Linked DNA regions of Homo sapiens. The protein of the gene in region 2 purifies or fractionates together with the protein of the main gene of each other region. This does not show direct contact. Each region holds a gene or a part of one and is shown on either strand. Other genes may lie near its edges. The genes, in order: FNDC3A, BTNL3, ATF6, SLC25A51, ITGA5, ABCA2 and SCARB1.

Region 1 (3,500 bases), on a different chromosome or scaffold from region 2:
TTTTATAATTTTCTTAATATTTTGGTCTTATTTCAGATAATTATTCAGTGGTCTCTTTTTATATCTTTATTCTTACCTTTCTGTCTTCCCACTGTTGTGGTTTTGCTTGTCTTTAATATATACTTTCAAGTTTTCTGTGTAACCTGTGGTCTTCCATCAAGTTCCTTTGTGGGTGTCATCTTTCAATGTTTCCAATCACTTATCACCCATTACCAGTCCTTGGGCTATTTTTTCCTCCAAGATTGAGAACTACACCTGGGAGATGTCATGTGCTTGCAGGGTGATGCAATGTTATTAAAGTGGGGATACAAACATAGTGTGATGTCTTCCTTCCTTCAAGTAGTTTACAAATTAGTTGGGGGTACTAGACTAATAGTATCATTAGCAAAAATTATAATATGGTATTATTAAGTTGTGTGACACCAACTGGAATTTAAAGGGAAGTGAAGCCAGTGAGAGCTAGAACAATCCTGGAAGGCATTTGGAGGGAGTCAGAGGAAACTTAGAAATGATTTAGATAACAAAAGGAAAGGCATTCCAAAAGAGATTCACAGGCAGAGTTGGAAGTAGTAGTAGAATAAGTAGTCCAAGAGCATCCAAGGACAGAAATTGGGACGAAGAAAGAAAGAAAGTTAGGTCGAGATGTTAGCTTAAGCACCAGGGCATCAGAAGAGGAAAATAGGCAGAGCTGGACAAGACAGTTTGTATCATTAGGAACCTATCACTGAAAGAACTATACCTCAGCTTTGACATATTAATAGCTTAAGCTTTATGTATAATGGATAGCTTATATGTGTTTGTTTGTATGGCTTAGGTCAGGGGTCGGCCAACTTTTTGTGTAGAGTGCTAGATAATTAAATATTTTAGGTTTTGCAGGCCATTTACAGTCTCGGTTGAATGTTCTTGTTTGTTTGTTAGTTTTTTATAATCTTTTAAAAACGTAAAAATTTTTACATTGTTGTCTCAAGAGCCAAACAAAAACAAGCCATCTGTGGACTGGATTTGGCCAGGGGACCTAGTTTGCTGACTGCTAGGTAATAATTGGCAAAGTAATTGTCCATATAGCACATACTGTGAAATTTCTTGCATCATCTTGTCTATATGGTGGTTTGGGCGTTTTATGACTATCATGTATATATTTTTCCTTATGTTATCCTAAAAAAAAAGTATGTAGAAATAAGTGCTTCTGTAATTGTTATTTTGTGGCCAGACTTCTAACAAGAGCCTAGAATAGGTCTCAGAATTAGGAAGTGAAAGACGAAAAGCCTTTGAGTCAGGCCTTACTACAGTGAAAATAGCTACACAGTGGCTTGATTTAGAATTTGTATAAGGTTAGGTGTATCAACTGCCTGTGCTGGTTTTACATTTTTAAAAACAGCTGGCAGGTTAAAAACCTTGTCTAGGATGCTGGTGGTCTGTAAGTGACAACAGAGGAGCAGGCAGTAGGGATCTTTGTTTTTAGAAGTAGTCTAGGATGAGTTAATAAAGGGACAAGCAGTTGGACATTCTGCAGTACTCCAGAAAGAATCACTCTGTTATGGAACAGTCTAATAATTGATATTTACATTGATGAGCTTGAGTCATCAAGAAAAGATTATATCATGTGCACATTAAGGCACGGAAGAAAGACCTAGAGATCTCTTTACAAATAATTAAGATTTTTTTAAGATAAGTTATGGTGATTTAAAGGATATAAGTATCAGCTGTTTTGAAAAGTAATTTACATGAAACATCTCTGAAGTTTCTAAATTTATAGATATCTATTTCTAAGGCAGTTCTGTTTCCTTCAGTATACTGTGGTTCATGTGCCATTACCAGGTGAATAGTGATGCCTCACGCTGTGGCTGCACAAATCAATTGGCTGGGGCAACTGTATTTTTTGTGGCATCAAGAGAGCAAGAATACATCATGAGAGCATTTTTTCATTAAGCAGGCATCAGTACATTCCATATATCAGGGTTAGTATTAGGTGCTGGAAAAAGTACAGATGTATAAGATGGGAAGCAACCTGGACAGAATCAGTGATGCTTCTTTCTTCCTGTTAAAAACATTAAAACCAACCAAACAAAATCATGAAACTTAACTTTTGTACTTTAATTTATTATTAGCATTTTTCATACTTAGTACATACAGTACCGTAATTTTAAGGCAATATAAAGCTTTTGATTTAAATAACAGCCTTCATAAATTGCTACTTAATACAATTTTTACTTTTTAAATTTTAGTTTAAGGAGAAATTCATGCCCTCCCTCTTTTTTTGTGAATGCTTGAAACAGCTTCACCATGCCAGCTGTTTCCATTTGCTAAACAAGAGGTAAATTAAAGTACCTTGGATGGTGACTCAAAAGTCTAGTTCTTAGTTCTAACTTCACCACTTATTACCTATATGATTTTGGGTTAGTTTCTTGCAATCTTGGTTTTCTAAGCATTAAAATAGAGAATAATATCTATCCTGTTTTCCTCAAAGATATTGTGAGAACCCACAGAGATGTTGGAAACTATAAAAGCATTAAAATACATACCATAAAAGTGCTTACATTAATGCTACTATATTGGAAGCAATGCAGCCTTTTTTTTTTTTTAAGACCAGAGTTCAAGCTTTATCCTCCAAAGTTCTGTAAACATAGTATGTTTCCAGTAAACATTCAGTTGAGCTCATTGAATTTTAGAACCTATACTTGCTTATTTTTAAAATCCTATACAAACCTGCCAGATATGTGGTGGTATTCTCATTTTACAGATGAACTATACTTCTGATTGACTTCCATATCTCTTTCTCCTTCACTTCTTGAGATCTCTTATGTGCTAGTTGCTAGAAATACAAAGTGCAATGTATACTTTGAAGTAAGCCTTGGTGTAAAAGTTACCTAAGTTTGGTAAATTAGATTGTGTATGTTAATCAGCCTCTATCAGAAATGCTGGGGGAAAAAAAAGTGTTGTATCTGTTTTCTTTCCTCAGAATCCATATTTTAATATATATTTGAACTTTTAAAAACTTAAATGATTTCGCTTCACTACTTCTTCAGTGAGGGATTACTTTAATTGGTTTATGTATATTCTAAACCGACAGACACATAATTTGGGAGGCAAAAAAATCTTACTTCTCTAGGGGTTCTAAACAGATATTTAAGTACACTTTAAATCACAGTTTAGACTTTTATTAGAAAGTAATTACGTGCTTTGCTTTATAGAAGTATATGCCATATACAGCAACTACTTTTGTTGAGCCATAACTTGAAGGATTAGTCATTTCATTTACTTTAAAATCAGTTTTTCTTAAGATTTGCTTAAATAAAAAGTGAAAATTCATAATTTGCGATTTTATGTTTAAATTTTCTAAATTTTTTTTGTTTTCTTAAGACAGACATTCTCAATTATGTCTTTGTTCTTATGACTTGATTTTTTTCCATGTAATATTTTCATTTGTAATATATACCTAAAAAAAATTTTTAGCATAGTACCTTCATAGTTTATGAAGTACCTTTTTGTTTCTTTAGTAA
Region 2 (3,500 bases):
CAGATAAAATTTTGACTCAGAAAACTATATTAGTTCTATTTTACACATTATGATAGATTGTAATTTTATTATCATTCAGTTTTAAGAATTTTCTACCTATCACTATGCTTTCTTCAATTTCTCAGTTATTTTAATGTTTAAAAATTTTTCAAACACATAAGAATTTAAACTATCTTTTGCTGTGGTCATTTGACTTTATTAAATTATGATTAGAGAATTTCATGTGCATGATATCTATGTCTGAAAATTTTCTTAAAACCATTGTATGTGTTTATATCTGGTAAAATTTTATAAAAGTTCCAAGTGTGGTAAAAATTAATGTATATTCTACAAACCTGGAGTGCCATCTCCAAAAATACGTTATTTCAGACTTATTAATTTTTAGTTCAAATAGTATATATTCTTACTCATTTTGTCTACTTATTTAATCAATTTTAGAACTCGAAGTATGACCTTTTTTCTTATTTCTGTTGATATTTTCTATGTTTTACATGTATAAGGTACATGTATATATATTTAAAATTTTCATATTCTTATACTGAGTGAACTTATGTTTTTGAAATAACTCTATCCCTAATGCCCTTTTTCTTACAACTTTGTCTTCCTTTTCTTGACACTAATATATCTGTTCAATTCTTCGTGATTAATATTTCTCGAGTATTTTTTATTTTCAATGAATAGCTCATATGTGCTACATTTTTCCTCTTATGAATTGCCATTGAGATTTTTAGTATTTGTCTATTTTTATTTTTATTTTTATTTTTACATTTTTGAGATGGAGTCTTGCTCTGCCACCCAGGCTGGAGCACAGTGGTGCCATCTCGGCTCACTGCAACCTCTGCCTCCTGGGTTCAAGCGATGAGATTTTTAAATCCAGTCTGAGATTCTTTGTCTTTTAACTGGCAAATTCAATCCTTTTAATTGAGTGTGATTCTGGAAGCATTTTAGTTTATGTAAATTTTCCTACTATTTGTAAATCCTTTCTGAAATTTTCTACAGTTTTATTCTGCTTCATGAAGGAGCAACGACGTTTTCTAAAAATGAAGAAACAATTATTTTCTTAGTCCTAGAGTTAATTTCCTTAAGTTTTGTTACGTGTTGAGTTGTGAGTGTTGCACCATGGGGGTATTGTGTGGTGAAGGAAATACTTAATTCTACTGCCTTGAAATTGTAAACTATTCTACTTCTGCCTTATCAAATGTTTGGTTTTGTTTTTTATACCTCATCAATCTTTGACTCTCAAAACAAATCATTGAAGCTGGATGGTACTACACAACAATCCCAGACACAAGCTGCTGCTCTACCCTGGGTTACGTATGCACACACCCATTCCTTGCTCCTCCTTCTCCCCACTCACCTCCTATCAATACCTTGGATTCCACCTCATGACTCTGCTCAGCAAGGTGGATGGAACACAATATGCTCCCAGCATTTTCCTGGACTATAATGGAGATCTCCACATCATACAGGCTGTACCCATCTGCATTTGCTCTGGAGTCTGAAGACAAATCCTGTCCTTGTGGACCTTTCCACTTGGCTGTGGGCTGGGGGAACCAGCCTGAGGACAGGCAGAGTAACTGGATACCTCCGTCAACATATCCCACGATGGAAATGAGAGGAAGTGAGCCCAGTGCTGGGAAGAAAACAGGGAAAGATGAAAGCAAAGACCAAATTTCAAGCTTACAGCATTTTGAGTCTGGTTCATCAAGCCTGTACCCATAACACACATACATCCTTTTCTCTCTCTCTCTCTCTCACACACACACATCCTTTTCTCTCTGTCTCTTACACACACATCTTTTTCTCTCTCTCTCTCTTACACACACATCCACTCATGCTACTACTGCAAGCCCTTCCATGGTCTATGTTCATTCAACATTTATTTAGCAGCCACTATATATGCCTGGATATTCCTAAGTATGAAATAGGATGCAGTGAATAAGACACAGCCCCTTCTAATGAGAAACTCATTGATCAAATAGTGAGGAAACTGTATAAAATACATTTCATAGTGAAATGGCAACTATGAAAGCATGGTCAGGTTAGCACAGAGAAGAGTGCTTAACTGTCAGGGAAAGGCACAGCTTCCTGGAGATGACATTTGCACCCTTCTGTGTCAGAAAATAGGAGTTTTGTTGTGGTCAGGTCTGGGAGAGGGGAAGCATTTTAGACAAAAAGAGGCAAGTACAAACCACAATGTGAAAAGTTAACATGCCACAGTGATTTCAAGGACTCATGAATATTTATATTCCAGATGATGTATAAGAGAGTAGGGGTGTGAGACAAGATCTGAAAAAGGCACAAGGCAAGCCGTGGAGGTCATACCTTCACTGACCTGAGCAACGTGGACTTGCCCACAGCCACTTTAAGAACTGTAGACCAGTAAGGCTCTTACCAGCTTCCAGCAGGTGGGAGTTATGGCAAGGCCTGTATGTTAGAGAGGTCTCCAGGCAGCAGCATGGAGGAGGGACCATAGAGAACACTCCGGAGGAGAGTGACCCGCCATGCAACTACTGAAGTGACTCCAGTGAGAGAAAAGAAGGGCTGGGGAGGAGGAGGGCTCTGAGAAGGGGAACGGCAGGTGCAGAATCTATTTGAGAGGTTGAATCAATAGGACTGAACATCAAGGAAGGGTTTATTGTGACATTCAGATTTGTGACTTGGGAAATATGCAAAAGTACCTCTTATGTGGTTGACTTCAATTTTATGATTTAATATTGCCTTTTAACCACTCCAAACAGAACTTCCTCTCTGAGTGTTGTACTCTGTCATTCCCTAGGGTCTGGATCAGTGCATGGAGCCTAATAAATGTTTGTTAGTCAATAAATTAATGAAAGAATGATGGTGGTGTAAGCACCAAGGAAGGGGGCTCAAGTAAGATGATGTAGACTTCTCTTCCTTGCTCCTTTCTCTAAGTAAAATCATAAACCCTAGAAATGCGGCAAGCATAGGTGCATTTTGAAAAGTGGAAAGACTAAGGAGGACTGACTAGGGACCCCAGGAGTAGAAAAAAAACACAGCAGCTGAGCATCCTATGACCACTCCCCCACTCCCACCTCCAGCAGAAGTAGGTGGCCCAGCGGGAATCTTTCCACCCCTAAATGGCTGAAAATACATGATATACAAAGTGGTGCTGGCAAAAGAATTGATCATAAGCCCCATTGACTGGAGACCAGGGGAAGAGTACTTTTTCCCACTATGCCAGATGATCACCTCTCTCACAAGAAACAGTGAGGAGCAACATGGGAAAACACCTTTTACTGCCACAGTTAGTACTAGAAAGGATGAGCAGAATCTCCAGTGACATCAGTTAAGCAAAGTAGACCAAAATAACACAGTAAAGTCTCTGAAAATTAAATTGTATTTGGAGCCACAACCACCAAAAATAGACTAGGACCTGAGTCATAAATCTAAACATGGTGACTGCCTGCAAAACAGAAGCTTTACATAGGGTCTAGAGTATCTTACAATAGTTAAACCATTTAGATTTCAACTAAAAA
Region 3 (3,126 bases), on a different chromosome or scaffold from region 2:
TATTAATAACCATCTTACAAAATAGGATGTAGAGACGATTGAAATAAGATAATATAGTTAATAAACCAGTGTCAGAGGTAATCATTGGGTGCTCAGTAAATGCCTGCATTAATTACTCCTGGATGGATCCCTTGCTGTCAGTCTGCAGTGACTAGCTTCAGGTGTGGTGGCATTTGCCATTGCAAGCTGGGAAGAGGCCTTTGGTGAGGACAAGATGCGTGACCGAGTAACCCACTTTCCTGAAGACATAGATAAAATATGGGTTTTTAGATTTTTTTTTCCTTGATAAGATTGTAGTTTAAATATCTGGACACTTAAATAAAGGAAATTTTTACTTAATTAGGCTTGGGAGAAGAGTGGAAAATAGTTCAACAGTTTCATCTGAACAGTAACACAAGCCACAAAGCCTTTTCAGGCTTCCTTTCCCATTACTAACCCCCCAACACTGAAGATTCATTTGGGGGCTTTTTTCTCTCTTTCTACATACAGAATAAACAAGGTAAGTTTAAAAATTCTTTATTTGAATTTTAGAGAAATAACAGGTAGTATAAAGACTTGCTTGAAAGTATGAAATAGTCTGTTGTTATTATTTCTTTAGGTTTTGCAAACCAACATCATTATTAAGGGAGAGAATGGTACATCTCTCCTCCTCATCTTTAACACGTTCTTCAATTGGCATGGGTACAACCTGAGCAAAAAGATCCTGGTGAAATGGCATCTCTAACACTCCCCCCTCAGTTCTAATGGCTCCATGGATGAAGCCCTACTGGACTTAGACCATCCATACTTGCCAAAGTGGTAACAGGAAACCAGTGCCTCTAAGGCTAGTAGTGCATAGTAGTTTTCATCTAAAGCTCTGTTTCCCCATCATCTCCTCTGTCCTGGTGACTGGCCTGGAAATTATGGCAAGGATGAGTTAAAATGGATCAATATACAATTGCTGTGAAAGTCAACCTACTAATCTCTAGCTGGGATTAACATAAAGGGGATATGCCAAGCCTCCTGGTTTATTCAACTTCATTGAGAGCAAACAGCACAATAGTGTTGTTTGTTGGCCTTGGCAAATGATAAATTATGATTTATTTACTCCTTAGTTACCAAACCTAATATAATTAAAAGTATTTTAGTGTGCTAAATCCCTAATGCTTAAAGTTAGCAAACCAATATGTTGAGAATGGCACCCACTATGTGACAGTGGCTGGCCATGACATGGATTCATGCGTAAGATCAAATTTTCTAATCAGATACCTTTGTCATTCTTCTTTTCATAAATTCTATTGCATCTAATAACACACATATTAGAACAAATGGCCGAAAGTTCTAGTCTTACCCAAAATAAACTGTTTAAAGCTTAGTCATTAAAAAGATAAGAACAGAACACACTTTACTTTCTTTTTTTTAGGTAGGAGAAAACTGCATTTCTTTTACGAGCATAGTTCCTTTTGGATTCTGGCAACATCTTTTTGGGTAGTCTAGTATTGTTTCCTAGGAAATTAAAAATCAATCCCAATCCCTGTGGGTGGAAGAAAATGGGAATATTCACTTCCAAATGTTATTAGGGGTGGGAACGAACATTTCTTATATTTCATTCTCTTTTAGGCTTTATTCTTGTTTCTAAAAGTTATAATTGGTATTCATATTAGCAGCAACAATCCTAATTTCTGTAAGTTAAAATGACTCAGGACTGATGAAAATAACATTTGTGGTAAGGAATATGGAGTCCACAGGTGGTAATAAGTGTCTATCAATTTTGGCAATTCACAATCTTATTTAAGAGGTTAATTGGTATGAAATAGCCAATAGTATGAAAAGATCTCAGTCGGCTGAAGGAAGCTGAGTCAGCCCATCAGTATGCAGTGGAAAGAGGGCTTTCATGGCTGGAAAATTTCCCATGACTTCAGAGTGAAAGGGGGCATCAGATCAGGCTCTAACTCTTCAGGCTGTGAAAGCAAAAGTGGTTACTTCTAATATGTTGTTGAAAGTGAAAGTCACTTTGAAACTTTGCAATGTGTTAGAAAGTCAAATACAATTATAAGTTTTTCCTGTAATACATTTCTGTCAAGTTTCACAACCTAAGCTTGGTAAAATGGCAAGAATCAAAAAATAGTAGGAAAGTGGCAAAGAGCTTGAGAGTTTTCCAGTTTTAACGATGCTAAATGCCACCACGGCAGTCTCACCAGCATCTCGCTGCGGTGACTACCGGGGAATACACACAGGGGAGGAAGGTTCAGGCTAAGATTTAGTCAGGATGATGTCTCTTTAAAAATGATTTGAAAAATCAATTTGAATCCCAAGTTCCTTTTCTGTTTCTAAACTTACTTGGAACACTTAAGAATGACTCACATAACATTGCTTTCAAATACCTCCGTGTCAACTTCTTACTGGCAAGAAATGGCAAAGAAATGCCAGTTTTGTGCTGGAACTTGTAGTCATTAAAAAAAAAAATTAGATGATGCTCTGAGTTTTATAATCGTGAGGGATTTTTTACTTGTGAAAACACAAATCCCACCCAAAACTCCATGTGAAGTTTCTGTACTACAAGCATGGCAAACAGCAGATTTGTTTCAAGGATGATCCTTTCACATTAACTCCTAACTTTGGAGTTAGTTTACACTAACACTCTAATGAAGCTGTGTCCCTGTACTGCTGGGCATAAGTCAACCCCAAAGGGACAAGCTCCTAACATCTGATTCAGTAGTTAACATGAGGAAACATCCACTTACTTCCATTAACCCTTAAAAATTTGGGACTTGCAACCAGGCAGAAAGACTATTCCCATCAGTCTCTACCATCACTTCCCAAGAGTGTATTATTGTCAGCCCCAAGAGCACAAAATCATCTAATAACAGGAGGACCTGCCTCCTCCATGAGTTTATCTAATTGTCTCATAAGCTTGCACAATCCTGTTTAAAATTTAATAAATAAAAAAATACACACATTACCCACAATTTCTGGCTGCAACCCCCAAAAGGCAATCCCACCAAAAAAAAAAAAAAAAATTAATCTGGCATGGCAACTTCTCATTTCCTAAAGGGCCTTGTGCATACAAACATTAAAATAAAAACTACAATTGTGCCTAGGGATTAATTATAGCTTTGCCAGCAATTTAAAAAGTGACTACTTCTT
Region 4 (3,500 bases), on a different chromosome or scaffold from region 2:
AACATGGTGAAACCCCGTCTCTACTAAAAATACAAAACAATTAGCTGGGCGTGGTGGCGGGCGCCTGTAATCCCAGCTACTTAGGAGGCTAAGGCAGGAGAATTGCTTGAACCCTGGAGGCGGAGGTTGCAGTGAGCCAAGATCGTGCCACTGCACTCCAGCCTGGGCAACAGAGCAAGACTCTGCCTCAAAAAAAAAAAAAAAAGTATAAGCCTAACTTTGTCACTAGTCCTAAGGAGAAACTTTTAACCACAAAGTTTTTATCATTGAAGACAATATTGAACAACCCCCTATTTTGTGAGGATTGAGAAGGGGTGAATAGAGGCTTGAGACTTTCCTTTGTGTGGTAGGACTTGGAGGAGAAATCCCCTGGACTTTCACTAACCCTCTGACCTACTCCCCACACCCAGTTGATGGCTTTCCATAATAAGATTGGGATTTCCTTTAAAAAAAAAAAAAAAAGAGGCCAAACTGCATTCTTCTTAGAAGGTCTATTCAGTTGATAAATGGCACTTAACTGATGGTTTTTTCATATAACCTTTAACAAGAACTCATAAGTTGCATTGATTATGCCCCAAGAGATGAGGGACCGATGGTAATTCAGATGGGCACCTCTGAAAAGATTTATCAGTTTTCTGTCCCGTTCCAGCCAGATTTTTTGGAAAACCTTGGGGAAAGACTGAAATTCCCCACCAATCTGAGACTGTATGCGAGTTTTTACAACATTAATTGGAAAAAACAAGAATCCCAACATGGCACCCAATAGACCTCCACAGATAAAATCATTGACCAGATGAGCACTGTGAGTCGTTGCGGTAGGCAGATGCTCCTTAATGGGACCTCGAAGGCCGAAAAACAAGACATTGCTGAGTCCATTCCGGAAAAGAATGGGCACCAAGCCTCGATAATACTCTCCAATTCCATGACATTTCAGTGCCTTGAAAGCCTGGTAAGTGTTGGTAAATTTGTCATGATGCTTGTGGTCTTGAAGCAATGTCTGAACTCTTTCCAGTGGAGTGAAAATTGCTTCTGTTGTCCCTGCAAGCACTGCCGCCACGCCACTGGTTGCAAACTCTGGAGCACTGACATGCTTGTGGAGAAGGCAGGATAAATCCTCATACAGACCAAACATAAGTGCAAGCGTAGTTGTCTTCTGCATCAATGGGGGAAGGATTCCACGATACAAATTTCGAAATCCATCCCTTCTCAACTGAAGTATTGCATCCCGGGTTTTGATGCCATACAGCTGTTGTCGAAAGAGGACCTTCTGAATGGGAAATGTGATTGCGACATTGTTGAAGGCTGCACAGCAGCCACACAAGTAATGCTTCATCTCACCAACATTTGTAATATGAGGTGATATATCTTGTTTTGAAGATGTTAGTATTGGTGGCCTCTTTTCATGAGCTTCTGAATCCATCATGCTGCTTAAGATCTTTCTTTTTCATGAAGGACTTTTTTTAACCTACAAATAATAAATGACAACGGGTAAACCCGTTTTATAGAGAGCTAAACACATGGGCTTTCTCCCTAATCCATCCTCTAATATCTGGACACCACACTTTCCTTTTCAGACTAGATCAGTGATTCTTAAAGCATTTTCAGAAGACCCCTGGAAGTCCCTGAGATCCTTTTGGGAGTCCAGGAGATTTTCCTTTTTCAAACTACATATCTATGTGAGGCTTGATTTTTTGCATATACTTTAATCAAAATGACTTATCACAACAGACTGAATGCAGCAAACAGGAAACTCCATCTTAAGTCAGACATGCAAAAGGCTTAGAAAACTGTAAAATATTTTCTAATGACTGTAAAATCATTAGAAAAAAATGGGAGGCATGAATGTTATTTTTCATGAAAATGTGTTAACATGTAATGTGTTTATCATTACCTTAAAATTCATATTTTAATTTTAAATTCCTAAAGACCCTGAATATCAGTCCACATAAACAAAGGGTGTTTGGGGCCCACAATCATTTTTAAGACTGTAAAGGAGTCCTAACACCAAAAACTTTCAGAGCCACTAGACTAGTTCGTAATTACTGACTACACTATATACGGTATCTATCTATTGTCCTGCTGAAATAGGCCCACATTCCTCCCCTGAGAAATAAAACAGCAAGACATGCACTCATTCTATTCATATTTATACTTCTTTGGTACCTACTATGAACTAGGTCCTCTGCTAAGTTGCTAGAGATTCAAAGATAAGGAATTCACAAACTAATAGAATGTGCCAAGGTGAACAATTACACCAATGTGACAGCTTCTATGATAACCAACCATTGTGGGAACACAGGTAAGGGACACTGAACATGCACCTTGGAAGGTGGAGGTGTGGGATGATGGGGGCAAGGAAGGCCTACAGGTATGTACCATGCACTCTATTTTCATGTATGAATTCTCAAAACAACTCCACAATTATTTTTCCAGTTTTACAAATGAATAAAACCAGTATTCTCTTTTGTTCTGTTCAGGGCACAGCTAGTAACTGGTGGGGTCAGCATTCTGAAATGAAGTCTGAGTGATTCCAGGGCTCATATCCCTGCTACCATATCACAGATGGCAATGACTTTGTGAGGCTGCCCTGGGATAAGAGGTGGCTATACTAGATACTGCTGAAAATGATTGGAACTAAGCCAAAGTTCCACCCCTATAATACACCTCCTTCTGTAAAATGCATGATCTTTCCTTGCCAGTCATCTAAATCTGATTCCTTCTCCCTGAAAAAATCCAGATCCAAATAGCTGGGTCATACAGAATAATTCCCACCTTCCAGTTCTGGTCTTGGAAATCACCTTTATTTGGGGGATAACATGATAACTGTATATTGTATCTTAGATATAATAGAAATATATAGAAACTTCTATATATTAGAAATATATATAAATATATACACACATATGTGTATGTGTGTGTGTATATGAGGCTAAATATTTTTTAATTGGATTTTAATTCCTTAACAGTAAGATACTGGCCAGGCATGGTGGCTTATGCCTGTAATCCCAGCACTTTGGGAGGCTGGGGCAGGAGGATTGCTTGAATCACGAGTTTGAGACCAGTGTGGGCAACATAGAGAGATCCCATGCCTATGAAAAAGTTAAAAATTAGCTGGGCATGGTAGCACATGCCTGTAGCCCCAGCTATGTGGGATGCTGAGGTGGGAGGATCAATTGAGCCAGGGAGGTCAAGGCTGCAGTGAGCCATGATTGCACCACTGCACTCCAGCCTGGGCAACAGAGCAAGACTCTTGTTTCTAAAAATAATAACAATAATTTAAAAATTAAAAATAGTAGTCAGGCGCAGTGGCTCACACTTGTCATCCCAGCACTTTGGAAGACCAAGGTGGGAGGATTGCATGAGGCCACAAATTTGTGCCCAGCCTGGGCAACATAGTGAGACTCTGCCTCTACAAAAATCAAAATAAATTTTTGGGGCATGATGGCGTACACCAGCTACTGGGAAGGTGGAGGGAGAAGGACCTCTTGAGCCCAGGAAGT
Region 5 (3,500 bases), on a different chromosome or scaffold from region 2:
GAAACCCCATCTCTACTAAAAATAAAAAAATTAGCCGAGCGTGCTGGCACGCACCTGTAATCCCAGCTACTCGGGAAACTGAGGCAGGAGAATCCCTTGAACCTGGGAGGCAGAGATTGCAGTGAGCTGAGATCACATCTGTACTGAGCGACCCCAGACTGGGCGACAGAGTGAGACTCCATCTCAAAAAAACAACAACAAACAAACAAAAAATAAAAACAACTGAGGCTTCAGGAGTCATAGAAATTTTGAACCAGAAGTTAGTTTAGGAAACATTCAAGGGAAATCCATCATTTTATGCCAGAGAATCCAAAGCTTGAAGAGAGGCAGTGACTTGGCCCAGGACACTTGAAAGCTTGAGAGGCAGGCCAGTCTCAGCTCAGCTCCTTGTTCCCTTCTGCAACTGCCACAAGTGGAGACAGCTGTTCTTCCCCAGCCAATCATACATATCCCTTGTGAATGCACTAGGGGACCCCAAACCAGGTGTCCTCCTCTGGCCTGGCCCATGCTGCTGTAGGACCTGTAGGAGCTGGGCGCTGGTCCACTTGCTGCTCTCCACCCCTGACCTTGTCAGGCCAACAGAGTCAAACAGTAACCCAGTATTGAACTGGGACTTGGTTAATCAAAAGCTGGGGAGATAGCAGATATGAGAGGAGGGAATAAGTTGGCAATGGGGTAGACTAGAATGCTGTCGTAGAAATCAGGATTCCTGATTTCTGCTTCATATTCTGGGAGGGATTATGAGTGACCTAAGCCCATTACTTAACTCCTCTGAGATAGTTTTCCCATCTGCAGAATGAGAACATGGGACGAGGTGAGCAGCTTTGAACTTTTTCTTAGGGAGTGTCAGAACGAGGCCAGTCTGCCTTTATGCCATGTGGCCTCAGGCACCTACAGTGAAGTCTTAAAACCAGTGGATGCTCTCTACAGTGCCTTCTAGCTGTGGTAGTCTGTGTCTCCAAGGACCAACCCTTCCATTTCTGAGGCTTCAGAATAAATTCTGGCAGTTATTTCTTCTCTCAGACTCTATTTCAGAAAAGTGTACCTGCCAACCTGCATTTAGTAAGAAATAATGAATTCCTTTTCTCATTCTTTTTATTTTTATTTTTTATTTTTTTGAGACGGAGTTTCGCTCTTGTTGCCCAGTCTGGGATGCAATGGCGCAATCTCGGCTCACCGCAACCCCCACCTCCCTGGTTCAAGCGATTCTCCTGCCTCAGCCTCCTGAGTAGCTGGAATTACAGGCATGTGCCACCACGCCCAGCTAATTTTGTATTTTTAGTAGAGACGGGGTTTCGCCATGTTGGTCAAGCTGGTCTCAAACTCCCGACCTCAGGTGATCTGCCTGTCTCAGCCTCCCAAAGTGCTGGGATTACAAGCGTGAGCCACCACGCCTGGCCGTTGTTGTTGTTGTTGTTGTTGAGAAGGAGTCTCGCTCTGTCTCTGGACTGGAGTGTAGTGGCGTGATCTCGGCTCCCTGCAAGCTCCGCCTCCCAGGTTCATGCCATTCTCCTGCCTCAGCCTCCCTAGTAGGTGGGACTACAAGCGCCCGCCACCACGCCCGGATAATTTTTTTGTATTTTTAGTAGAGACGGAGTTTCACCATGTTAGCCAGGATGGTCTCGATCTCCTGACCTCGTGATCTGCCCGTCTCGGCCTCCCAAAGTGCTGGGATTACAGGCGTGAGCCACCGCACCTGGCGCTTTTCTCATTTTTTATTAACCAAAAACATCTATAGCTGCCAATCAGAGTTTCTGACCAGCATGAGATAACCAGGTTCCCACATAAGTTGATATAATTCCAGCCAAAAGCAAATACACTTGAGGTTTTAATTAGCCTAGGCCACCTTATCTGGTAAATGCATGATTTCCGTTAGGCTTTCTGAAATATTGAAAATAGCACACGGACCCTCCATTGTTACCTTCTTAGACCCCTAAAAGTGCCCAACTGCTGCAGGATTTAGGAAGCAGGAAAAAGATGTGGGAAAATAAGGACAAACTAGCTTGCATGCCATCCATGGCACCAGTCACCTCACTTGGCGTGTTGGCAGGGGAGGCACTATTTATTGGATTGACTTTAGGTTGCTGGGATGGAAGGGCCACTGCCTGTCCAGGAATAAGCCATGGGTAGTGTGCCGGGAGGAAAGGAGGCCTAGGTCTGTGTCCCTTGCCTGCATGCCAGGTATCCTGAACCATCGCACAGCCGGAATGGATATGCCCCTGGCTTGTGGGCTTTACAAGCTTTGTAAACTCTCTGTCTTGCAACCCTGCTAAACTCCAGGCTACTTCCTCAGGCCACCCCAGGAGTGTCAGGCTCAGCTCCTCTCCAAGAGCAGTGGGTGTTGGAGAAATTGGCAGCAGGAATAGGGTCCCTTGGCCTTAGCCCTGTGCTCCAGGAAACTTTGAGAGAACCTCTTCTTCACCCAGAGGAAGAGGGAGAGGGTATTGCCCAAGTCCACAGTTAGTGCCTGAACCAGAACTCTTGGCTCCTGGTCCAGTGCTCCTTTCACTGCTTCCTGTACCTCTGCTGTTCTGGTCTAGTTCAGGTTGGTGGCCCTTTCTGCTTTCTAGAGCCTGAAGGCAGCAACCAAGTTCTCTGGGGGCTGCCCCTGCTGAGAGAGGGGTCTCCTTCTCTCACATCACCCAGCCCTAGGGCGGTGCAGCCAGACCCCACAAGTGGATGTCATGCCTAAGTGAGAAGGGTGGGGCCTGGCACGGAGGTGGGGGTGTGGGAGACAAACGGAGAAGTGAGAGGTTGGAAACAGACAGGAAGCCACAGGCAGTAAACATTTCCTGTCCCCAGAGTAACGGAGACTGGCACCTCCCCTCCCCACCCCTCCTAACTTCAGGAGCTCTCCCTCTTCAGCCTACCCATCTCCTATTCCTCTGGACCCTGCCTTCTCTCCCCTCCATTCTCACCACTGGCCCTCACAGACCCCTCCTCACTCTCCTCTTCCGTCCCCTCGGACCTGTCCTCTCTGCTGCTTCCATCCCCTATACCTCCTGGGCCACTCCTCCCCGCCTCAGTATACCTGGTCTTCTTGGAAAATACCCCCAGCTCTTGTGACCTCTACCATAATCCTTCACTTTGGGCCTTCTTGCCTAGTGAGAAAGCTGAGGAAGGTATTCAAATATCAGGGAAAGGGTAGGTATTGGACGGGTTGAAAGCTGAAAGTGAACAGAAACCAATAGAGATGGAGAAATGTAAAATCTGAGATAGAGAGATAGGATTCAAAAACCAAAACCAAGAGAGCAAGCAGTCATAGGGGCAGAGGGACAGAGGGATTGAGAAGCAGTGCCAGAGGCAGACACAGAGCAGAGCAGAGGCCAAGGCTGGCAGGAGCACTGGTCCAGAGGCTGGGTCGAGTTGCCCAGGCTGCCAGATACAAGTCCTGGCAGGAGACCCTTAGGGGAAACCAAGAGAGCCAAGAGCGGTGTGGAGGTCTTGGAGGCAAGAGACCTAGGGATGAATGAGGCAGAGCTGACGGCAGGAGGACTGCC
Region 6 (4,212 bases), on a different chromosome or scaffold from region 2:
AGGGAACGGACGTCAGAGGCCTGGCCAGGCTGAAATCGCCCATCTCCCAGGCCCGCAGGCTGGAGGGTGTCTGGGGTGACAGGGTCTGACCTGTGCCTTGTAGCTCCCTCTGGTGGCCAGTGCTGGGGAGGCACTGGGGATGCGGCTGCAGCCAGGGAGCCCCTGTAGTGGACGGTGGAGAGTGGGGCGAGGAGGAGAGAGGCCAACCCACGGGTGGTGCTGACCAGGGCCCCAACAGGCTAAGCCCCCGGGGCTGGGGCACAGGGCTTGTCCCTACCCCAGGTAGGGGTGGGCAGGTTGAGGGCAGGAAGCCCCCCTCACCCATGGCTGTGGCTTGTGGGAAAGACCTGCTGGTAGCTTCCTGCCCTGACCCAGCCCTGTGGACTGAGCAGAGAAAAGCAAGTGCCTTGAGGCTGCGGGCTGGGGTGGGAAGCTGATCCCTCACTCACTAGCCCAGGGTCACCTTCCTGCTGCAAAGGAGCTGGGAGGAGTGGGGAGCTGTGGCCTCGGAGGTCTTCATTCACTTGAGGATGCGCCTTCTATGTGCGCCCTGACACTGGACACCACACAGCGCTACTCCACCCCATTCACAGGGGGGAAACTGAGTCTGGGAAGCGCCGTCAGAGCCACCCATGGGGTCAGCCTGTCCTCTGTCGCTCTCTACAGGCCACGCGGAGGAACTGCCCCACCTCCCGGGGCGCCCCAGCAGGTGCCAAGCCACAGCCGCAGAACCGCCTGATCCCGAACTCCCTGTGCAGAGACCAGACTCGCCCGAATATGGGGAGAAAAACGAGCCGCGTGCAGCAGGGGCCGCCTCGGTCCCCTGCCTGCTCCGCTCACGGCGAGCGTTCCTGGGGCCTCGAGTTTCCCCCCTTCCGCTGGCTGCTCGGAATCGCGGGACGGACCCACCTGGCCGCCCTGCCTCCCTTCCAGGTGGGCACCACCTGGACTCCAAGTGCTGGTTTACAAAGCACACAGGAGACCCTTACGGGGGTGAGCTGGCCCCTCGCCAGCGTCCGCTCGGCGCGCCCCGGGGACAGTGAAGGCTTGGGGCGCCTCTGCAGAGTCGCCAGCGCGGTGGGCGCAGCCGGATGCCTCTGGGAGAAGAGCGCAGCGCCCGAGGGTCCCCCGGCCTACGAAGGCTAAGCCGGGGTCTCGGATTCGATGTGGGCGCGTCGCGTGACGCCCGGCGAGGGGCGGCCCGGAGGCTTCCCGGCGGCGGCGCGCGCAGGGTCTCGGGCCCGGGTCGGTCCCGGGCGCGGCGCGGGCGGCGGGCGCCTCCTGGCGGGCGCGGACGGAGCGCGGCGCCTTTAAGCGGGGGCGGGCGGGGCGCGGGCAGAGTCGCTGTCGCCGCGGCCGCCGGGGCGGAGCCAGCGCGGATCGGGTCCCGGACGCCCGAGCGCCCCGCCCCCGCGCGGGCGATGCCCAGCGGCGCGGCGGGCTGCGGGGCCCGGCGGGGCGCGCAGAGGAGCGGGCCGCGGCGCTGAGGCGGCGGAGCGTGGCCCCGCCATGGGCTTCCTGCACCAGCTGCAGCTGCTGCTCTGGAAGAACGTGACGCTCAAACGCCGGAGCCCGGTGAGCCCACCCCACGCGCCCGCCCTCAGCCCGAGGCCGCGCGCACCGCGGCCAGAGGCGCGCTCCCCGCGCGCACGTGCGGACGGCCGGGCGCGCGCAGACCCCGGCGGGCGCTGGGGGCGGCGCGGGCCCGAGCCCCCTCCCCGCCGGGCCCTGCCCTCGCCTGCCGGCGCTGCGGCCTCCGGGGAGGTGGCTCGGTCGTGTCCAGTCCGGTCCCGCGTCCGCTGACATCGCGGTGCTCGGCTGAGTCACGGCACCCGCGCCCTCTGCAGCGCGCTCGCTGGGGCCGCTGTGGGCGGGGGGCAAGCGGCGCTCAGGACTCTGGCTCGAGGGAGGCCCTGGTTCCCAGGACAGAAGGCAGGCCTGGGGGGCTCCATTCAGCTGCGAGGCTCCATGGTCCTTGGGCCCAGCCTCCCTGGGGTCCCGGAGGAGACCCTGTCCCTTCCCTCCGTCCACCCCTCCCCTGCCCTTGGGCCGCGGCCTGCCATAGAGGTTGGTCCCAGGCATCTCTCCGCCTCCCCTCCTGGCACATCCGTGACCCTTGCTCATGCTCTCGCCACTGGGAATGTCCTTGTGCCAGCCTTGGCCAGCCTGAATCTCTGCACCCATTTGTCCTTTGGGGTCAGTTCTCCCCGAGCCTGATCCACTCTGTTGCCTCCTGGTCCCCCCACCTGCTCTGGGGGCTGGGTCTACTGTTTGGAGCTGTGAACCCCGGCTTTCCCAGCACTGCCTGGGCAGCCAGTGGACCTGAGGGTGCAGGACACATGGCTGTCAGGGACAGAAGTCCTTCGTGGAGCGAGGGGCTTGGGGATATGGGTGTCCTGCCATACCCCCAGCTGGCCAGCTTGGCTCCAGCCTGGGAAGGGAAGGGACACCTCCCAGGCCACAGGCCTGGACCAGCTTAGGTTTCTGAAGGCCCTTGGGATTGTCCAGGCCAGGGCTCAGAGCAGGTGGGGGCCTAAGGCAGACATCCTCTTGCCCAGCCAGGGCCCGGGCGGGACCCCTTGGGCTGCACCAGTCCGTGCCTGTTTATCTTTCAACATGCACTGCAGGAAACCCAGGCTGCAGTCAGCTGGGGTGGCCATCATCACCATGGCTGGCAGAATTCCCCTGGGCACCTGGCCTTGGCGGGGAGCCTGGGTTAGGTACATGCCCTGGCCAGGCACCTGGAGCTGGCTGAGTGGGGTCCCATGGATCAGGCCTGCAGCCCCTGGCATTGAGTCACTGGGGACAGCAGAGCAGGGCCAAGGGAACAGGGATGTGGCATGTGGCATGCATTAGTATTAGTCCCCGGGGGTGGTTGTCAGGAAGGTCCCCACTGGGCTTGGGAGCAGAGGCTGGAATGGTGGCCCCTGTTCCAGTGGGGACAATGCTCAGGGAAGGGAGTGTGGCCTATGAGGGCAGCTGGCAAGCAGGTGGGAGGTGTGCACTGTCCTGACCGCAAGAGTGACTCCCAGCTGCTGGTTTGGGCTGCCCCCCAGGACCTTTTTGGGTCCCCACCCTACAGGGCTCCCAGAGGCCCACTGGGCCACAGTGGAGGTCCTTAGCCCATGGCTGGAGCAGGTGGGGAACTGTTTCCCCCAGGGAGGCTGAGTCCTTGCCAGGCTTGTGATGTGGGGCTGGGGCTGGCTGGACACTGGGCACACTCCTGCTGGGTCCCCACTTTCCTGGGAAGGATCTTGGACATCAGAGCTGGACTCTTGGGGCCAAGCTTGGATGACAGAGGTTTGCCCTGTGTGCCATGCGCCCTGCTGGGGCAGGGGTGCACCCTGGGCAGAGCTCCACCCTGGGCAGAGCTCAGGGTCTGGAGGGTGGGTGCCAAGGACCTCTGTGCTGCTAGCAGGCTCCTCCAAGCTCTTTGCCTCAGTTTCCCTGTCTGTGAGTGTGGCCTATCTCCTCTTAGTTAGCTGGACTTGGGTCTACCCTTGGGCTACAGGCTGCTCTTGGTGCAGGGACAGGGTCACTGTCATGAAGTCACTGGGATGGCAGATGGCAGCGCCACCCTCGGGTCTCACCTGTTCTCCCCCCGACACAGTAGGCGGGAGCTACAGGGAGGGGTCATGCCCAGAGAAGGCATCTAGGCCTCCAGGCGATGTGAAGGCACTGGGCTGGTCTCGAGGGACGGAGGTTGGGCCACCTGGAGGCACCTGTGTGGGGCACCCAGGGCGTGCTAGACCTGTGCTGCCGCCTGTAACCAGATGCTGCTGTGGCGCCCGCCGCCTGCCAGCCAGGACTCTCCTCCTCCTCCCAGTAGCTCGTGCGAGGCCGTTGCTATAGCAATGGGGGAGGCAGCCGGGCCTGTTGCTGCAGTTACAGTGCCCATAGCAGGCCGGGTGTGGGCGGGGCTGGCGCCCCGTGCTGTGACCCCTGCCTCTGACATTGCCTCACTCCTGCAGCCACCCTCGCCCTGGTGCCTGTTGGTGCCCACAGTGCCTTGGCGAACCCTGGGCTCCGTCCTGGCTCAGGGAGCGGGTGGAGGCTGGCACGGGCTGGGGCGGGCATGGGACACCCACAGCATGATGTTCCTGGCCACAAAGCCCTATTGTCCAAGCACAGTAAACACAGCAGCCGCCCCCACCCCAGGGACCGGGGACTCGGCCCGGGCCACACAGCACACTGGGGGCTCTGAAGGGTTTT
Region 7 (3,500 bases), on a different chromosome or scaffold from region 2:
CCATCTACAAAAGGAAGTAATCACAAGCCCTACTTCACAGGGCAGCTGTGGGGATTAAGCAATCAGATACCCAGAAAGCAATCAACACAGCCGCCGGGTGCAGAGAAAGCACGAGGTAAACATCAGCTGCTGTGACTGTTGCTGCTGCTGTCCTTATGATCTCTCATCTCTCCAAGCCACTCTCCACCATCCAGAAGAATCTTTGAAAAGTGGAAATCAGGTCGGGAGCAGTGGCTCATGCCTGTAAACCCAGCACTTTGGGAGGCTGAGGTGGGCAGATCACCTGATGTCAGGAGTTCAAGACCATCCTGCCCAACATGGCGAAACCACGTCTCTACTAAAAATACAAAAATTAGCTGGGCATGGTGGCAGATGCCTGTAATCCCAGCTACTCGGGAGGCTGAGGCAGGAGAATCGCTTGAACCTGGGGGGCGGACGTTGCAGTGAGCCGAGATCGCGCCACCGCACTCCAACCTGGGTGAAAGAGAGACTCCGTCTCAAAAAAAAAAGTAGAAATCAGATCGTGCCATGCTCTGGACCACAACCCCACTTTGCATGCAGGTTAAAATCAGGCTCCTAACGTGACCTCTGAGGCCCTCAGCAAGGCTCAGGCCTCGTCTCTCCACTGTCTCCCTCCCTCGTAACCCCAGCCGCACAGGCCTCTGTCCCAGCCTTCAGACCTTTGCACATGCTCTGCCCGGGACTCTGTCTCCCCAGGGCCTCTTCCCACCATGCGGGTCCAGTGAGTGTCCCTTTGCAGATGTGCTCCCGACCCTCCAGTCAGACCGAGCCCCAAGGCCACCCTCCCTCCTGCACTCCGGCTTCACACTGTTTTGTCTGCACAATACTGATGGCTGCCTGATTTCCCCTTATTTGTCCACTTCTTTACTCTCTCCCCATCAGAACATCAGCTTGGTGAGGCAGGGCCTTGGTCTGCCTGCGCCCCCAGCACACAGGAGGTGCTCAGTCAGTGCTCACAGAATGAAGGAGTATAGAGAGCTTTGGCATTTTTGCCCATTCTGTCCACTGCTGGGTCCCCTGTACTTAGAACGGCAGCCAACACCTAGCAGGTGCTCAGTAAACATTTGTTAAATGAACGAGCGAATGAGTGAATGAGTGAACGGAATGCAGCAGCTGATTCATGTTTCCCATTCCCAAACCTCAGGCACATTTGCTGGGTTTTCATCTTGGCTTTCCCAGAACCAGACTGTGGGTCTCCAACAGCGGGAACACCCTCTGCCCGCCCCATCCCTGGAACACCGTGTGCCGGGGGCAAGTCAGCTCCCCTGTCTGTGAACTGGGAAGTGGGGGTGTGGAGGAGGGGAGGTGCTGTGAAAACGCCAGGAGGTAAGGGAGTTGTAACAGGCACATCCGCCAGCCGTCTCAGAGCTCCGAGTGCATCCTGAGTGTCCCGGTGACCCCATGAAGGGGCTCTTGTGTCTCTCCAGTCTGCAGACGGGCAAACTGAGGCTCAGAGGAATGAAGTCACTTCCCCTAGGCCACAGCCAGGTACAGGACAAGCAGAAAGCAAAGGCACAACTCTGTGGTCCTTGGGCCAGCATGTTCCACAAACAGCTGACCCCTTCCCGTGCTGACCCACCCGGTCCTCTGGCCCAGATAGGGTCTGGGGGGTCGGTCCCTGCTCCTGGTCATGCATGTGTGTGTGTGTGTGTGTGTGTGTGTGTATGTGTGTATGCATGTGTAGGTACATGTGTGTGTATGTATGTGTGTGTGTATGTGTATGTACGTGTGTATGTATGTATGTGTGTATGTGTATGTGTATGTGTGTGTATGTATGTGTGTAACTCACACATGCACCCTCCACCCAGACGCACACCATTGGTCCCTCCCTGCTCCATAAAGAACCTCTCTAGGCAACGTCTGGTGATTCGCACCTGTAATCCCAGCACTTTGAGAGGCTGAGGCGGAGGATCGCTTGAGCCCAGGACTTCAAAACCAGCCTGGGCAACATAGCAAGATCCCATCTCTAAAAAAAAAAAAAAAAAAAAAAAAAACCCTAAAACAAAAACTTCTCTGGGACTAGCACTTACCCCGACTATGACTTGCCTGCTTCCGGAACAATCTCTGGGGCTCAGTCAGCAGCCTCCCCATCCCGTCCACTCTGAGACCCCTCCCCTGCCCAGCCTCAGCCGGCCCCTCCACCCTCACCTGGACACAGCCTCACCTGTACACGTAGGGCCCGCGCTCCCGCACCTGCGGCTTCTCGCCCTTCAGGATCTCGCTGGGGTTCATGACGTCAAAGAAGTAGACGGAGAGATAGAAGGGGATAGGGATCTCCTTCCACATGTTGAAGGACAGGCTACTGGGGTCGATGCGCACGTTCTGCAGGGGAAGGGACAAGTACGCTTGTGAGGAGAGTGATGAGGGCCCCACGCCCCACCACAAGGCTCCGGAACAGCTGCCCGAGCCCGGCCAGGGAAGGGGCTCCTCGGCGGGAGCTTGGGATAGGAGGTGGTGGGAAAGCCCTTCGCACATGAGGCTGTCGCACCTGGAGCTTATGGAATTAAACAGGCAACCTATCCATGCTGTCATAATGCATCTTAAAATATGTCCTAACAGCAACAGGTGACACCAGTCAAGGGACTGTGGTAAACAGGGGCCCATGCACCACCTAAAGGGAGCGCCGGAGCTCAGGGTAGCGGATGGGCTCAGGGCAGGGATAGCCTCATGCAGGAACATGGGCTCCGTGTGGCCAGGGGGATCATTCATTCATTCCACAAGCAAGCACTGAGCACTACCACCTGCCAGGCGGGTTCTAAGAGCTGGGGATGGGAGAATGACCAGGACAGACCAAAAGCCCAGCTATGTGGGGCTTTACCATAGCGGAGGAAAGGCAGGCACCAAACAACTCAGGTAAAACGCATGCCACGTGACAGAGCACAGAGAAAACACAGCAGGGATTGGGGAGAGACTGGGATTTGAGACAGTCATCACGTAAGTGAAATATAGGCCAGGCACCATGGCTCATGCCTGTAATCCCAGAACTTTGGGAGGCCGAGGTAGGAGGATCACCAGAGCCCAAGAGTTTGAGACCAGCCTGGGCAACATAGCAAGACCCTGTCTCTATAAAGAATAATTTTATTTATTTATTTATTTTTTGAGATGGAGTCTCACTCTGTTGCCCAGGCTGGAGTGCAGTGGCATGATCTTGGCTAACTGCAACCTCTGCTTCTGTGTTCAAGCGATTCTCCTGCCTTAGCCTCCTGAGTAGCTGGGACTACAGGCCCCCACCATCACGCCTGGCTAATTTTTGTATTTTTATTTTATTTTATTTTTTTGAGAGGGAGTCTTGCTCTGTGGCCCAGGTTGGACTGCAGTGGCGCGATCTCGGCTCACCGAAACCTCCATATTCCGGGTTCAAGCAGTTCTCCTCCCTCAGCCTCCCGAGTAGCTGGGACTACAGGCACCCACCACCATACCTGGTTAATTTTTGTTTTAGTTTTTGTTTTTGTTTTAGTAGAAGTGGGGTTTCACCACGT

What was found.
Region 1: the proteins of BTNL3 (region 2) and FNDC3A purify together in Homo sapiens (affinity purification with mass spectrometry; one large-scale study listed by BioGRID and IntAct). This does not show direct contact.
Region 3: the proteins of BTNL3 (region 2) and ATF6 purify together in Homo sapiens (affinity purification with mass spectrometry; one large-scale study listed by BioGRID and IntAct). This does not show direct contact.
Region 4: the proteins of BTNL3 (region 2) and SLC25A51 purify together in Homo sapiens (affinity purification with mass spectrometry; one large-scale study listed by BioGRID and IntAct). This does not show direct contact.
Region 5: the proteins of BTNL3 (region 2) and ITGA5 purify together in Homo sapiens (affinity purification with mass spectrometry; one large-scale study listed by BioGRID and IntAct). This does not show direct contact.
Region 6: the proteins of BTNL3 (region 2) and ABCA2 purify together in Homo sapiens (affinity purification with mass spectrometry; one large-scale study listed by BioGRID and IntAct). This does not show direct contact.
Region 7: the proteins of BTNL3 (region 2) and SCARB1 purify together in Homo sapiens (affinity purification with mass spectrometry; one large-scale study listed by BioGRID and IntAct). This does not show direct contact.

The regions. Positions count from the first base shown.
Region 1 is NC_000013.11:48,978,912-48,982,411, forward strand, and holds part of FNDC3A (fibronectin type-III domain-containing protein 3A), read left to right. Parts: intron 1-3,500. UniProt on the Homo sapiens protein: Mediates spermatid-Sertoli adhesion during spermatogenesis.
Region 2 is NC_000005.10:180,995,346-180,998,845, reverse strand, and holds part of BTNL3 (butyrophilin-like protein 3 precursor), read right to left. Parts: intron 1,634-3,500; coding exon 1,358-1,633; intron 1-1,357.
Region 3 is NC_000001.11:161,961,445-161,964,570, reverse strand, and holds the end of ATF6 (cyclic AMP-dependent transcription factor ATF-6 alpha), read right to left. Parts: 3' UTR 501-3,126; downstream 1-500.
Region 4 is NC_000009.12:37,887,128-37,890,627, forward strand, and holds the end of SLC25A51 (mitochondrial nicotinamide adenine dinucleotide transporter SLC25A51), read right to left. Parts: intron 1,466-3,500; 5' UTR 1,424-1,465; coding exon 530-1,423; 3' UTR 477-529; downstream 1-476. UniProt on the Homo sapiens protein: Mitochondrial membrane carrier protein that mediates the import of NAD(+) into mitochondria. Mitochondrial NAD(+) is required for glycolysis and mitochondrial respiration.
Region 5 is NC_000012.12:54,412,767-54,416,266, reverse strand, and holds part of ITGA5 (integrin alpha-5 precursor), read left to right. Parts: intron 1-3,500.
Region 6 is NC_000009.12:137,025,438-137,029,649, reverse strand, and holds the start of ABCA2 (ATP-binding cassette sub-family A member 2), read left to right. Parts: upstream 1-1,412; 5' UTR 1,413-1,509; coding exon 1,510-1,575; intron 1,576-1,738; exon of another isoform or gene 1,739-2,186; intron 2,187-4,212. UniProt on the Homo sapiens protein: Probable lipid transporter that modulates cholesterol sequestration in the late endosome/lysosome by regulating the intracellular sphingolipid metabolism, in turn participates in cholesterol homeostasis.
Region 7 is NC_000012.12:124,815,365-124,818,864, forward strand, and holds part of SCARB1 (scavenger receptor class B member 1), read right to left. Parts: intron 2,344-3,500; coding exon 2,186-2,343; intron 1-2,185. UniProt on the Homo sapiens protein: Receptor for different ligands such as phospholipids, cholesterol ester, lipoproteins, phosphatidylserine and apoptotic cells. Receptor for HDL, mediating selective uptake of cholesteryl ether and HDL-dependent cholesterol efflux.